Linked DNA regions of Homo sapiens. The protein of the gene in region 1 purifies or fractionates together with the protein of each later gene. This does not show direct contact. Each region holds a gene or a part of one and is shown on either strand. Other genes may lie near its edges.

Region 1 (3,505 bases):
GTTGGACAGTCTTTGCCTCTAACCGTCACCAACACTCATGGGGTAAGTAGATGCTGTTATAAGGATGCCCATGCAACAGGTGGGAAACCTGAGCATCAGACAGGAAAAGCAGGTTACCCATGGCCACACAGCTGGACTCGGACTGGAAGAGAGGATGAGGGGCCCTGCAGGCCAAGGACAGGATGCTTCCTAGGGAAGGGGGCCCTGCTTGTTCAAGACATTCTCCTCCACCCCTTCCCTCCATCCCCATCACTCAGGACTGAAACTTTTGCAATAACAGCATTTCAGGGGCTTCAGCAGTGAATGGGGGACCACAGCTCCCCACTCCCTCCCACTCACACACAGAGTGTGGGGACTCCTCAGCCTCTGCAAGGGCCACTCTCTCACTCAAAGAACAGAGTAAAGGGCCTGGCTTTCCTCGTAGTCTGCAGGGGACTGGCCCCTCTATGCTGAACCCAGGGCCCCGTGAGGCCCCGTGCATTCAGTCACACACACTAGACTCTAGTTTCATGTCACCACTTTACTTTTCACATGTATAGCAGCTCTCTGCATCTAGGCTGCGTGCTCTGTGAGGGCAAGGATCCTCATTGACAGATACCATTTTTCCTTCCAGGGAGCCTTGGGCAGCGCTGGGCAGGTAATGTGAGCTGTGATACCTACTGACTGATCAGTCTGGGAGGGTGGGGCATGGCTCTGTTCACGCTGGCCACAGGGAGTGTATGACTTTGCTGAACTTTTTTTCTGCCTGAGGCTCAGTTTCCTGCTATTCTTGGTCTGTGTCTGTCTCCCTGAGGGCTCCAGGGCTGGCACCCGGTACGTGCCCTCCTCCCACTCTCACCTCTGCTGTGCCTGTCCCTTAAGCTGGAAGCACAAGCAGGAGAACAGCAGGGGCAGCCTCACCCAGAAGGCAAGGGGCAGCTACCTGACATTCCTCTCCTCTTGGCTGCTGGGGAGCCTAGGGGAGATGTCACGGTCTGAGGATGGAGGAAAATGAACTCACATTGTCTTTCTGTCCCGAAGGAGAAAGAGGGTCTGCCTAGAACCATGGAGACCCTGGGCCAGGGCTGCTTTCAGCCTGGGGAGCTGCTGGGTATGTGTGGGCAAAGCTGCCAGCACAGGAGGGGACTGTGGCCTTTGGGGCTGCCCTCCGGTGATCAGAACCCTTCTAGGGGAAGCATGGTGATGAGGGTTGGTTCACTCTGCATTTCAGAGGGAGGACCTCAGGCCCAAGAGGGGACAGGGATCCAAAAACCCTCCAGCTGCTTGGAAGGTTCAAAAAGGGGTGTGGACGCATCCACATCAGCAGGAAGTAGTAGGAAAAGTCACCAGGGAACACGTAAGGATGAGGCCGGGAGAATTTTAGCATGCAAATGGGTAGGATGGCCCGTTTACTGATCAGCTGCTGCCTCCTCCTTCTCCTCCATGTCACAGGAGCTCTGAGGCCGTGCCTTCGCCTCAAGCTCCCTCTCTCCAGCTGGCTCCACGTGAGGCTCCTCTGCCAGGAGGTACTGGGCCAGCTGCTCCAGGTGCTCCAGGCTTATCTTCTGCAGGCGCTCCTCGTGCTCCTGCCTTAGCAGCTGCAGCACGGCCTTGGCATCCTGTGGTTCAAAGTGTTTAGCTAGGACCAGTCCCAGCTGGTGCCACAGGGGCTGGGTCTGCGGCTGGTGGGCCTCCTTTAGCGCCATCTTCTCCAAGGGCTGCATGATGACATTGATAGAGGCATTGGGCCCAATGCAGTAGTCAGAGAGGTGCTTGTCATCCTCCAGGAGCTGGCCACGGAAAAGCAGGTGCTGCTGCTCCTCAGGCACCTTCAGCCGCCTGGACACCAGTCTCTTCAGCGTGGCTACACTCTCTTGCCCTGACACCTTCAGACTGCATCTCTGGCCCAGGAGCAGCTTGACTGTGAGGAACATCGGGCTGAGTGGAATCAGGAGGGATCCATGCTCTGGGAGCTGCCCTGAAGATTAGGGGGTCCTGCGGGAGATGTTGGCTTCTCCCTATCAACAAAGGGCTAGTAGTCCCAGGAGACCAGGGACCCAGCTTAGGCAGGCAGCCATTGGCTAGTGCACGGTGATGTCACAATGCTGCGGGGGGGCTCATTTCCAGAGTGGAACTTTTGGGACAGCAAAGGGGTATTTGGGCCCAGAGCATCCTTCCTCCACGAGAGGAGAAAAAGAGCACTAGGAAAGAAAATGTGGGACTGGGGGAAATGAGAGTGAGACTAGGGAAAGGGAGGGAGGGAAAGGACAGGGTGGTGGGAGGAGCATGTCTATTGATTTCTTCAACACATGTGTATTAGGTGCCACCTCTGTGCCAGCACCTGGACCTGGGGAGACAGTCATATTCAGATGGATGACTTCTGCCTTCATGACACTTTCACACTAGTGAGCTGGCTAGCATTTATCAAGCGTCCTCTTTCTGTCAAGCACTTTACACGCTCTTTTGGATTGGGCTTTCCAGCAGCAGACACTGAGACAGGGATTTGAGAACAAGTACTCAATTAGGAGGTGATCCCAGGAGGCACCAGGAGGGGAGTGAGGATGTGAGATGAGGACGGGAGGGAAATCAAAACGTGCATTCATGAGCAGGTTGCCATTGTGGGCAACTAGTATGTTATCCTGCTGGGGAGTTCTGGGAGGTTGCATGGAACACACCTGAGTTGCACCAGGTGTGGTTTTTTTGTTTTTTTTTTTGTTTTTTGAGACAGGGTCTCACTCTGTTGCCCAGGCTGGAGTGCAGTGGCATGATCTCGGCTCACTGCAACCTCCGTTTCCTGGGTTCAAGTAATTCTCCTGTGTCAGCCTCCCAAGTAACTGGGGCTACAGCTGCACGCCACCATGCCTGGCTAATTTTTGTATTTTTAGTAGAGATGGGTTTCTCCATGCTGCCCAGGCTGATCTCAAACTCCCAGACACAAGCAATCTGCCTGCTTTGGCCTCCCAAAGTGCTGAGGTTACAGGCGTGAGCCACCGCACCTGGCCGAACCTGCATCTTTATGCTCTGACTCCTGTCTTTGGCTAATAGAAGTGCTACCTCCTTGGCACTTCTGGTCCACAGGTGTTAAGCAGCATGCTCCTGTGACCACAGAAAAGTAGGAAGCCATCGGGCCCTCAGGAATGTGAGTGCTGAGGGGATGGGGCAGGACAGCCCACAGCATCTGCATCACAGGCCTGCCTAATTGAATCCTCTCAACCTATGAGGCAGGCACTGCCATGATCTCCATCTGCCAGAGGAGAAAGTGGAGGCTTGGCTGATCCTACAGCAAGCAGGCAGAATTGCTCTTGTCTTCACTGTTACCTCATGTTGCCTCCTAAACAAATCTCTGCTCAGTGCCTTTTGTGGCCCAGGCCCTGAGCAGGCACCCCCGGCTCAAAGGTGAATATGAAAAAGGACACTGATTGGGCCTCCTCTGTGTCTGCAACTTCTGCAGCATTTGGCAGTTTTCAGTGCAACACATTGCTGAAGGCCTTCTGGGTCAAGCCCTTTATATATGTTGTCACAATTT
Region 2 (3,600 bases), on another chromosome or scaffold:
CCCACCTTTCCCCGCCCAAACTGCTGTCCCTGTGGGGGTTCCTCTCCTCCTTCTGGGCTCAGCTCCAAGGTCAGTCTTTAGAGACCTCTGCTGCCCTCCACCCGCATTCACAGTTCCTTAACCCAAATTGACTTTCTCCTTTCTGGAGTCCACTTTAGAAATCTCCTTTCCTTGTTTAAGGGCCACACGATAGCCCCTGCCCCAATGGATGACTGGAGGGTAGACTCACCCTCCTTCAGGGCCCTGCCTCAAGGGCACAGGTCTGTCCTTCGGGGGACCTCCATAGTTACTGGGTAATTAGTGAGCAGCCGGGTTTCCGGGATTCATTGCTGTGAACAGAGCAGCGATGCACACAGGCCCATGTGTTTAAATGCCCAGTGAGCCCTGTCCATTTTTTTCCCCCTCTTGGAACACTGAATATTTAAAGCCATTTTCTTTGTGGCCTTAGTTGTCACAGAAAGGGCCCAAGCACTGAGCTGGGAGCAGGGGGCTGGGACTTCCTGCTCCTAAGTCATTCCTCAACCTTGGGCAAATTCGGTAACTGTAGGGTCTCACTTTTAAGGAGTGTAAACCACATGGTGGGCACCAAACAGGATAAGATCCTGGAATTCTCTAGAGTTCAACAGTGGAGGTGGGGAGGGAGGGGACCGGAAGGCCTGTCCTGGCATTTTCAGTAGTCTCCACAGGAAGTTCTGTCCTGGCATTTTCACTAATTTCCAGTGACCCCACAGAGGGTCACTTGGAGACTCAGTGGCCAGAGACCCCACAGCGTACCCCAGCTCCTAGGAGTTGGCCTGCTTCTTGTTCCTTCCTAGAAGCTGGAGTCACATTACTGGACCGGAAAAGGCTCCTAGTATCTAAACCAACGAAGAAGGCCCTTCTTTCACAGCCCCCCCGCACTTTGGAGACTCCCACAACTTTACCTCCACACTAGTTTGCCCCCCGACCCAGGCCCTCGACACTCCCCACGCAGGGCTCCCAGGATTCGGGGATGGGCAGGGCTCGGGTCCTGGTCCCTCCAAGTGGGGGCTGCCTCTCCAGAGTGGACAGGGGACCCGCGGAGGGGGTGTCTTATCCCGGACGGGAGGGAGACGCTGCCTCCTGGACCAGGTACTGGGACCCACGGGCCCACCCCCAGTTGCGTCACCCGGCCCACCGCCCCCTGAGACATCACAATCTGGGGGCCGGGACCCGCGCCTCATCACAGCCGGTTTGTAACCAAACAATCCAACCTACAAACACCCCGGAAAGAAAAAAAACACAAGCTGGCCTGACCCAGCCTCCCGCCCCTGCCCCGCCCCGCCCCGCCCCTCGCCCCTCGCCCCTCGCTCCTCAGGGCCCCCGCCCCCGCACGGGGGAGTGAGAGCGAGCCCGCCGCCCCGCACCCGCCGCCCCGCGCTCGCTCGCGCCAGCCCGCGGCGGGGGCGGCCCCGACCGCGCCGCCCGCCCCTCCCCGCCCCGCCCCGCCCCGCCCGCGCCCGCGCCCCGCCCGCGCCCGCCGCGACTCCAGCTCCGCGGCGCCCTCGCCGGGTGCGTGCCGCTCGCGCGCCCGCCAGCCAGGCTCTCCGCGCCCGCCGCCCGCGCCGCGCTGGCCCGGGCTCTCCCGCCCGCGCTTCATGGCTGCACACGAGTGGGACTGGTTCCAACGCGAGGAGCTCATCGGGCAGATTAGCGACATCCGAGTGCAGAACCTGCAAGGTAACGCAGCCCAGGCTCGCCCCGGGATGGCTGGGCGCTCGGGGGGCCCGGGGCGCCGCTCCGACACTTGGCAACTCCCCCGCGCCGCCCCCGCTCGCCGGCCGCTCGTTGTTCCTGTCACTTGCCTCGAGGTGGGAGGCTGGGGTTGGATACCCGCCCCCAAGCCCCAGGGCGGCCAGCCGCGGCCAGGTTTACAGTTGCCCAGGGGGTGGGGCGCCACACGTGTGTGTGTTGTGGGGCGAGGGCTCGCATTTTCATTAGGGGGACGTCACCACCCCCTCCAGTCACCGCTGCGAGTTTGGAGAAGTTTGTACGTGGGCTCTTGGGGGCGGTGGCCCAGGTTAGGGAGGGGAGGAGACAGTGCGACTCTGTGTGTGTGTGTGTGTGTGTGTGTGTGTGTGTGTGTGAGTTCGCGCACTTCCTAAGTACCTTCGAGGCAAGGGGAATTGAATGGTGGGCGGCGCTTCAGGGGGTGAGTTGGGGAAAGCGGGGCCAGGGGTGCGGATCGGATCGGTGGGGTCAGGCAAGCACCCAACTCCAGCGGCCACTTTGCTTAGGGAGCTGCCCCTCCCCTGCAGGATCAGGACTCTAACTGGGGAGAGGGCGAGAGCCCCACCCTTCCCCCACGCTGGCCCCCAACTCCGACCCTGCCTGGGCACAGGACACTGGGACCAAGGCTTCTACCTGGGAGGTAGCTGAGAAGAGGTGAAAGAGAAACTCCAGTGGTGGAGAGCGGCTGGGTATGGCGGTGCCACACATGAAGTGTGTTTCTCTTTCAAAAGAATTTATTCAATGTGGAAACTTAGAAAGCACAAAAATATTTGAAGGAAAAAAGTCACCCATAATTTCCCCTCCACAACCTATCCACCCAACAGACAGGTGTTCTTCATGGAACTGTATCTCCAGCTTCTTTTTTTTCATATATGGGCTTTGCAGAACTAGACAGAACACCACTTCCGGCCCTTCTTCACCCACATTGACCTGTGCAGGTGAAGTTTCTGTAGCTGCTTCCCCTGCTGGCTTGGGTTTCTAGAGGGTTCAAGGTTAGGAGTGGCTAGGAGCGAGCTGGGAGGCCTGGGCAGAGAGGCGATGGGGCTGTGGGTGCCCTCCCCCAGCCAGGGCAGCGACTTTACTGTTATAGGGTAGGGAGCCCCAGCGCTGGGGGATGGCCGAGCAGTCAAGTTTAAACATTACACCTGATTGAATGTTTCCTGGGAGCCCAGGGTCTGCCCCACCCCTAGGTTGGGCAAGGACAGTGCCGGCAGAGGTGACCTCAAAAGGACTGGGGAGCCTCCTGGGGTGGACACTGGAAACTGAGTTTGCTCTGGGCCGCTCTGATCTCTTCTGGCTGTGATTTGTGTTAAAGGAGGAGGCTTGGGCTGGGATGTTGAAAGTGATCTCTTTTGATAATAAGCCAAGTGCCTGGATCCTGTTGCCTGAGAAGAACTGACATCCTGTTTGGGGGTGGGCATTAGTGTCTTCTGCTGGACTGTGAGGGTGTGAGTGTGTGTACCTGTCTGTCTTAGGCAACCATTGAGTGTTTAATAAGCACATACTAACCAATGCTTCGTGCAACAAGTTCCTGCATTCCTCTAGGATTAGCTCCTGGTTTAGAGAAGATTGATTGTTGTGAAGAGATGCCCCGCAATATGAACATTAGGTTACAACCAGAACGGTGGGAGAAGGCTTTACAGAATAGGGACAATTTGAGATGGGTCCTGGAGGTTGGGTAGGAGTTCACTGAGTAGGCTCCTCTCCCTCAGCTCCCAGTGAACTGTCCTCACTTTTAGGCAAACATCAGTTACAATTTAAGCATCAACAGGCTTTGCCATTAAAAAAATAAATTTTTAAATGTATGTATATGTTTAAATGTGCACTTATTAAGTTCAACAAAACTTTATG

What was found.
Region 2: the proteins of UBL4B (region 1) and CLMN purify together in Homo sapiens (affinity purification with mass spectrometry; one large-scale study listed by BioGRID and IntAct). This does not show direct contact.

The regions. Positions count from the first base shown.
Region 1 is NC_000001.11:110,110,943-110,114,447, reverse strand, and holds UBL4B (ubiquitin-like protein 4B), read right to left. Parts: upstream 2,006-3,505; 5' UTR 1,914-2,005; coding exon 1,389-1,913; 3' UTR 501-1,388; downstream 1-500.
Region 2 is NC_000014.9:95,317,809-95,321,408, reverse strand, and holds the start of CLMN (calmin), read left to right. Parts: upstream 1-1,500; 5' UTR 1,501-1,616; coding exon 1,617-1,698; intron 1,699-1,802; exon of another isoform or gene 1,803-2,148; coding exon of another isoform or gene 2,149-2,170; intron 2,171-3,600.